Homo sapiens: one gene and its partner. The protein of the gene in region 1 interacts with the protein of each later gene in a pairwise test. Each region holds a gene or a part of one and is shown in the gene's direction. Other genes may lie near its edges.

Evidence for each region. The genes of interacting proteins can lie anywhere in the genome.
Region 2: the proteins of F8A1 (region 1) and MTNR1A interact in a two-hybrid assay, tested with the Homo sapiens proteins (one large-scale study listed by BioGRID).

The regions. Positions count from the first base shown.
Region 1 is NC_000023.11:154,884,842-154,888,794, forward strand, and holds F8A1 (40-kDa huntingtin-associated protein), read left to right. Parts: upstream 1-1,513; 5' UTR 1,514-1,533; coding exon 1,534-2,649; 3' UTR 2,650-3,220; downstream 3,221-3,953. Other genes in the region: H2AB1 (histone H2A-Bbd type 1), read left to right, coding at 209-556.
Region 2 is NC_000004.12:186,532,955-186,535,966, reverse strand, and holds the end of MTNR1A (melatonin receptor type 1A), read left to right. Parts: intron 1-1,409; coding exon 1,410-2,278; 3' UTR 2,279-2,312; downstream 2,313-3,012.

The DNA.
Region 1 (3,953 bases):
TCACCTGACGGACGTGTGTCCCTTGTGAGGGGCCGTCACCACATGCGTGCCCGTCGCCGGATGTGCGTGCCCATTGGTCTCGGCTCCCTAGCCAATGAGGGGCTGGGCCCTGGTCGCTAGGATACACAGTACTGGACGCGGTAACTGTCCTCTTGAGAGCCATCTTGCCTAGCTGGGCCAAGCCGAGATAGCACACTCAACGCCCAGCATGCCGAGGAGGAGGAGACGCCGAGGGTCCTCCGGTGCTGGCGGCCGGGGGCGGACCTGCTCTCGCACCGTCCGAGCGGAGCTTTCGTTTTCAGTGAGCCAGGTGGAGCGCAGTCTACGGGAGGGCCACTACGCTCAGCGCCTGAGTCGCACGGCGCCGGTCTACCTCGCTGCGGTTATTGAGTACCTGACGGCCAAGGTCCCGGAGCTGGCGGGCAACGAGGCCCAGAACAGCGGAGAGCGGAACATCACTCCCCTGCTGCTGGACATGGTGGTTCACAACGACAGGCTACTGAGCACCCTTTTCAACACGACCACCATCTCTCAAGTGGCCCCTGGCGAGGACTAGCTTCTGACACCCGGCCCCTGGGACCTGACAGGTCCACTCGTCCACCCACCCGGCCCCAAATCCCCCGGCCTGAACCCCCGGCCTTAAACACCCTCCCCCCACAACCCAGGCCCCAAAGTCTTGGGCCTTCATTAATTCTGTCAATAAAATGTTTCAAGGAAGCCATCTGCCCGCTTCAGTCACTTTGCCTTGGGGTGGGGGTGGGGGGGCGGTGAGATGGGTTGGGGGGTTGTGAGACCTCCACAGCTGGAGGGATGGAGAGGTGGTGGGGGTCTGGGGTTGGGTGGGAGCCAGGGATGGCACAGAGGAGCAGTCTCTCCGGGTGACAGTGCAGGGGAGTGGCCCTGGGTGGGAAGGGGACACCCCCGCTGGTTCTGAGCAAGTCAGGGCCTGCCCGGGAAAGTCCTCAGCATGATGGTGTTCGTTGGGGCGGGTGGGCCTCAAGACCATGACTGCAGTGTTGCGACAGGACGGACTTCTAAGGCAACCGGGGTGGGGACGGAGAGGTGGACCCGGTGCTTGGCAAGGGGCCCTGGACCGGAAGACGGAGGACTGAGTAGTCGGGGCGGGGGGGGGGGGGGACAACAGTCTAGAAATGCGCAGACATGGAATTAGGGTCACGAGTTTCGTTTGGGTCATGTTCAGATGGAGAGGCTGTGGGATGCCTTTAGCAACCTAGACCACTTGCATTGCAGCCGAGCTAGCAGCAGCTGGTGCCCCGCCAGGCCCCGCGTACCTTCCCAGGGTCTTGGATCCGCATCCCCGAGACCCTCGATTTGCATACGCCGCTCACAGCCCGGCCAGGCCCCGCCTCCGATCCCGCTCTTTGCACCTCATCAGGGCAAGGGGCAGGCTCGGGCTGGGGAGCCGGCGCGGGCACGGCGGCAGCCCGCCGAGGGGGACGCAGGGCACGTCGCCCCGCCCCGGCCCGCCCGCCAGCTGCGGCGGCGCGTCGGGAAGTGCTTGGGGCGGCGAGCATGGCGGCAGCGGCTGCAGGCCTGGGCGGCGGCGGCGCCGGCCCGGGACCCGAGGCCGGGGACTTCCTGGCCCGCTACCGGCTGGTATCGAACAAGCTGAAGAAGCGGTTCCTGCGGAAGCCGAACGTGGCGGAGGCCGGCGAGCAGTTCGGACAGCTGGGCCGGGAGCTGCGCGCCCAGGAGTGTCTGCCCTACGCGGCCTGGTGCCAGCTGGCGGTGGCGCGCTGCCAGCAGGCGCTCTTCCACGGGCCCGGGGAGGCGCTGGCCCTCACCGAGGCCGCCCGCCTCTTCCTGCGGCAGGAGCGCGACGCGCGCCAGCGCCTGGTCTGCCCCGCCGCCTACGGGGAGCCGCTGCAGGCCGCCGCCAGCGCCCTGGGCGCCGCGGTGCGTCTGCACCTCGAGCTGGGCCAGCCGGCCGCCGCCGCCGCCCTCTGCCTCGAGCTGGCCGCCGCCCTGCGCGACCTGGGCCAGCCGGCCGCCGCCGCCGGTCACTTCCAGCGCGCCGCCCAGCTCCAGCTGCCCCAGCTGCCCCTGGCCGCGCTGCAGGCGCTTGGCGAGGCCGCCTCCTGCCAGCTGCTGGCGCGCGACTACACCGGCGCCCTGGCGGTCTTCACGCGCATGCAGCGCCTGGCGCGGGAGCACGGCAGCCACCCGGTGCAGTCACTGCCGCCGCCCCCGCCGCCGGCACCCCAGCCCGGGCCCGGGGCGACGCCCGCCCTACCGGCCGCGCTGCTTCCTCCGAACTCCGGCTCGGCGGCGCCCTCTCCCGCCGCCCTGGGCGCCTTCTCGGACGTGCTGGTCCGCTGCGAGGTGTCCCGCGTGCTGCTGCTGCTCCTCCTGCAACCACCGCCCGCCAAGCTGCTGCCGGAGCACGCCCAGACCCTGGAGAAGTACTCCTGGGAGGCTTTTGACAGCCACGGGCAGGAGAGCAGCGGCCAGCTTCCCGAGGAGCTCTTTCTGCTGCTCCAGTCTTTGGTCATGGCTACCCACGAAAAGGACACGGAAGCCATCAAGTCGCTGCAGGTGGAGATGTGGCCACTGTTGACTGCTGAGCAGAACCACCTCCTTCACCTCGTTCTGCAAGAAACCATCTCCCCCTCAGGACAGGGAGTCTGATCCATCCCATTCACCCAGTGACTTCTTTTTGCCCAGGCCTGGACTTTTTGCATCAGTCACGTTAACCAGATGACTTTGCCTGTTACCAAACCTCATGCATCCACGTTTGCGTCTGGGGAGGAATAAAAAGACATCGTTCCCGCTTCTGCGTTTTGTTATTCCTACTGCCGCCATAGGAATTATTTCGTTGGCTGAACGTTACCAGCACCCCGAGAACACATTTTGATAGAATCAGAGTAGAGGACATGGCTGTCTTCTAAAAAGCCACGACATGAAAATGACAATCCCTTTCGTCTCCTTCCTCCGCTGCTTCCACCTAACGCAGCCTCCTGCCTCCGCCTTTGTTTCATAGTGAGGATTTTATTTTGCACGGCGCCCTCCCTCTAAATACCTACCCTAGATGATTTCATCCTGCCCCTCACTTCTTAACATATTCCTGTGTCTTTGTAATGGCCAAATTTCTCCTTCCACTCGTCCGCACGGTACGTCTTCATGGGAGTCATTTTATTCCTTACAGCTTCCTTGTAACCACAGCCCTAAATCCATGATAAAGCTACTCTTGTACTCCTCATGTGTGGTTTTGGTGTCCGTCGTCTATAAAATGTGACTCTCTTACCTACTTGTCAGGAGGCCAGCAGCAGAACCAGATAGCTGTTTGGGCTCCAGGATGTATTCGTTCCTTTGAAATTTGCGCTATGCCTCCTATGTGGGCAACGAACCTGCAGAGATCATCTATGATGTGCTCCGTACTCGGGTGACTGCAATGCAGATACATCCAGTGCAGCGGGTCTGGTGCCGATGCATCGATTTGCATTGGAATTCACGGTTCTGGTTCCATTCGCAGAGGTATATGCAGTCTGGATCACAACAGCTTTTATTTGTAATAGGGATTTTTTTTTTTTTTTTTTTTTTTTTTCCCCCCGAGATGGAGTCTCACTCTGTCGCCCAGGCAGGAGCGCAGTGGCGTGATCTCGGCTCACTGCAACCTCCGCCTCCTGGGTTCAAGCGATTCTCCTACCTCAACCTCCAGGGTGCCTGGGATTACAGGCGTGCACCACCACGCTGGGCTAATTTTTGTATTTTTAATAGAGATGGGGTCTCACCATGTTGGCCAAGCTGGTCTCCAACTCCTGACCTCAAATGATCCACCCTCCTCGGCCTCCCAAAGTGCTGGGATTACAGGCATGAGCCACCACGCCTGGCCTGTAATAGGGATTTTGCTGCAACTTTTAGTTAAGTAGGTGAAATCAGAGTGCGTGGCCCTTTGGTGTTGTGCGATCACGTGACTGCAAGGCAGCCTCCGT
Region 2 (3,012 bases), on another chromosome or scaffold:
TATAATTTAATCTGAGTAAAAAGCAGTATAAAGTGCTTTAAGACCCTTCAAAGGAGGAAGCTCTTACCACTAGGTGGGCAAATGAGCAAAGGCTTCTGGCATTTCTATTTGAGATAGACTTGGGAGAATGGGCAGGATTTAGAAAGTTGATGTGAGGAGCCATTCGAGGCAGAAGGAATAGTAAGAAACAGAGGCAGAAGAGCCGCAAAAGAAAAAAAACATATTTGCAGAACATCTCATAATATTTGACTAATGTAGCTGGGAGCAATGGCTCACACCTGCCATCCCAGCACTTTGGGAGGCCGAGGCAAGTGGATGGCTGGAGCCCAGGAGTTTGAGAGCAGCCTAGACAAAATGGCAAAACCCCGTCTCTACAAAAATACAAAAACGAGCCGGGTGTGGTGGTGTGCACCTGTGGTCCCTGCTGCTTGGGAGGCTGAGGTAGGAGGATTGCTTGAGCCCTGCAGGCGGAGGTTGCAGTGAGCCAAGGTCGGACCATTGCACTCCAGACTGGGTGACAGAACAAGACTCTGTCTCAAAAAAATAAAAATAAAAAAGTGACTAGAGTTTTTTTTTTCTGTAATTAAATATGTGTTGTTATATTAATTGAGAAAATTAACAGACTATTTAGGGTTTAAGTTTTGTAACGTAAGTTCTTTATAAGATCTAAGAGAATTTCTGCATTTTCCTTTGGTTCAAGGTGAGGGAGTCGTAGAATAAGAACATTTCTATGGTGTAAGACACGGTACATGGCGCTCACCACAGATAGTCTCATCTCGTGCTCACCACAGCCCTAAGAGGAAGCTGCTCATTATCCCATCATCCAGGGGAGGAGGCAGGTGCTTGGGGAGATCAAGTAACTTGCCCCGGTTGGACAGTTAGTAAGGAGTGAAGCCATGTTCTCATCCAGACGGCTGACGACAGATCCCTCTTGCCCTTAACTCCCTCTCTATGGGATCAGCAAGAACAGAAGCTAGAGGCCCCCTGAGAGCTGCTGAAGCACTACAGAGGGAATGAAGACTTGAACTTAAGGAAGTTGTGGCTGGCTTGACATCATATGAGATTTCTCAGGTGATGTAGAAGGCTCCAGAACAACAGATGGTGTGCAAGCATTCTGATCTCAGGACTTTTTAAGAGATGAGAAGCCGAACGGTTTGAAAGACAGCAGTTTTGAACATGGAACAGGCCCTGTTCTGGGGAGGTGGGAATGTGTGAACAGCGGATTCGATGTGTCAGGAGCGGCAGTGGACTGGCCCTCCTGGGAAACGGCCTCCACTTCATTTGCAGTGCGGCCGCCGCTGTGACGTCAGGTCATCGGAGCTGCAGAAGCAGCTCCTTCTTTAACAATTGTAACAGAAAACCCACTGTGAACTGGTATTCACTGTATTTTCTAAACGATTCTCTTTCAGGAAACATCTTTGTGGTGAGCTTAGCGGTGGCAGACCTGGTGGTGGCCATTTATCCGTACCCGTTGGTGCTGATGTCGATATTTAACAACGGGTGGAACCTGGGCTATCTGCACTGCCAAGTCAGTGGGTTCCTGATGGGCCTGAGCGTCATCGGCTCCATATTCAACATCACCGGCATCGCCATCAACCGCTACTGCTACATCTGCCACAGTCTCAAGTACGACAAACTGTACAGCAGCAAGAACTCCCTCTGCTACGTGCTCCTCATATGGCTCCTGACGCTGGCGGCCGTCCTGCCCAACCTCCGTGCAGGGACTCTCCAGTACGACCCGAGGATCTACTCGTGCACCTTCGCCCAGTCCGTCAGCTCCGCCTACACCATCGCCGTGGTGGTTTTCCACTTCCTCGTCCCCATGATCATAGTCATCTTCTGTTACCTGAGAATATGGATCCTGGTTCTCCAGGTCAGACAGAGGGTGAAACCTGACCGCAAACCCAAACTGAAACCACAGGACTTCAGGAATTTTGTCACCATGTTTGTGGTTTTTGTCCTTTTTGCCATTTGCTGGGCTCCTCTGAACTTCATTGGCCTGGCCGTGGCCTCTGACCCCGCCAGCATGGTGCCTAGGATCCCAGAGTGGCTGTTTGTGGCCAGTTACTACATGGCGTATTTCAACAGCTGCCTCAATGCCATTATATACGGGCTACTGAACCAAAATTTCAGGAAGGAATACAGGAGAATTATAGTCTCGCTCTGTACAGCCAGGGTGTTCTTTGTGGACAGCTCTAACGACGTGGCCGATAGGGTTAAATGGAAACCGTCTCCACTGATGACCAACAATAATGTAGTAAAGGTGGACTCCGTTTAAAAAAGCACCACGTTCCGGGTGAGATGGACACGCTGCGCAAGGCCTCGCTCTTGACAGATGTCTGGGAAAGCAGAGTGGTGGAGGAAACTTCCAACTTTTACCTGGCTGCTGCCATAGTTTCTGAGCTAACGTGCTGTCAGCATTATAAACCCCTCCAATTCTACTAGTCAAGAGAAGTACAGAATGTATGGAGAGTTACATGTTAACTGAGGAATGCGGTTCAGGGCTGGGGTGAGAGTAAGCTGCTGAATGCATTCAGGGGAAGGAGTGTGCAAACTTTTATTGTAAATGAGTGCCACAAAAGGGGTAATTGCATTCTTCTTCACTTTTTGAAGACTTCTAGCAGAAAAATGAAAGAGAATTTTATTTATAAATGAGCAAATGGAACAATTTTTTTTCTGTAAATGGAACAAACAATGAAAGTGGGGTGAGTGCCTCTTATTACAGAGGGAAAGGCTGAACATAAATCAGTTAATGGCTCATCAACAATCACAACCACAACCAACACCACAAACCTTTCAGCTGGCAGAGTTAGCATTGGGTAGCTATACTCATGGTCATAAATGTTTGCTGCTCTATATTACAAGTTGTGCATGCAACCAGATAAAGAACTAAATCATAGGCCGGGCACAGTCGCTCACACCTGTAATCTCAGCACTTTGGGAGGCTGAGGTGGGCAGATCAACTGAGTTCAGGAGTTTGAGACCACCCTGGGCAACATGATGAAATCCCAT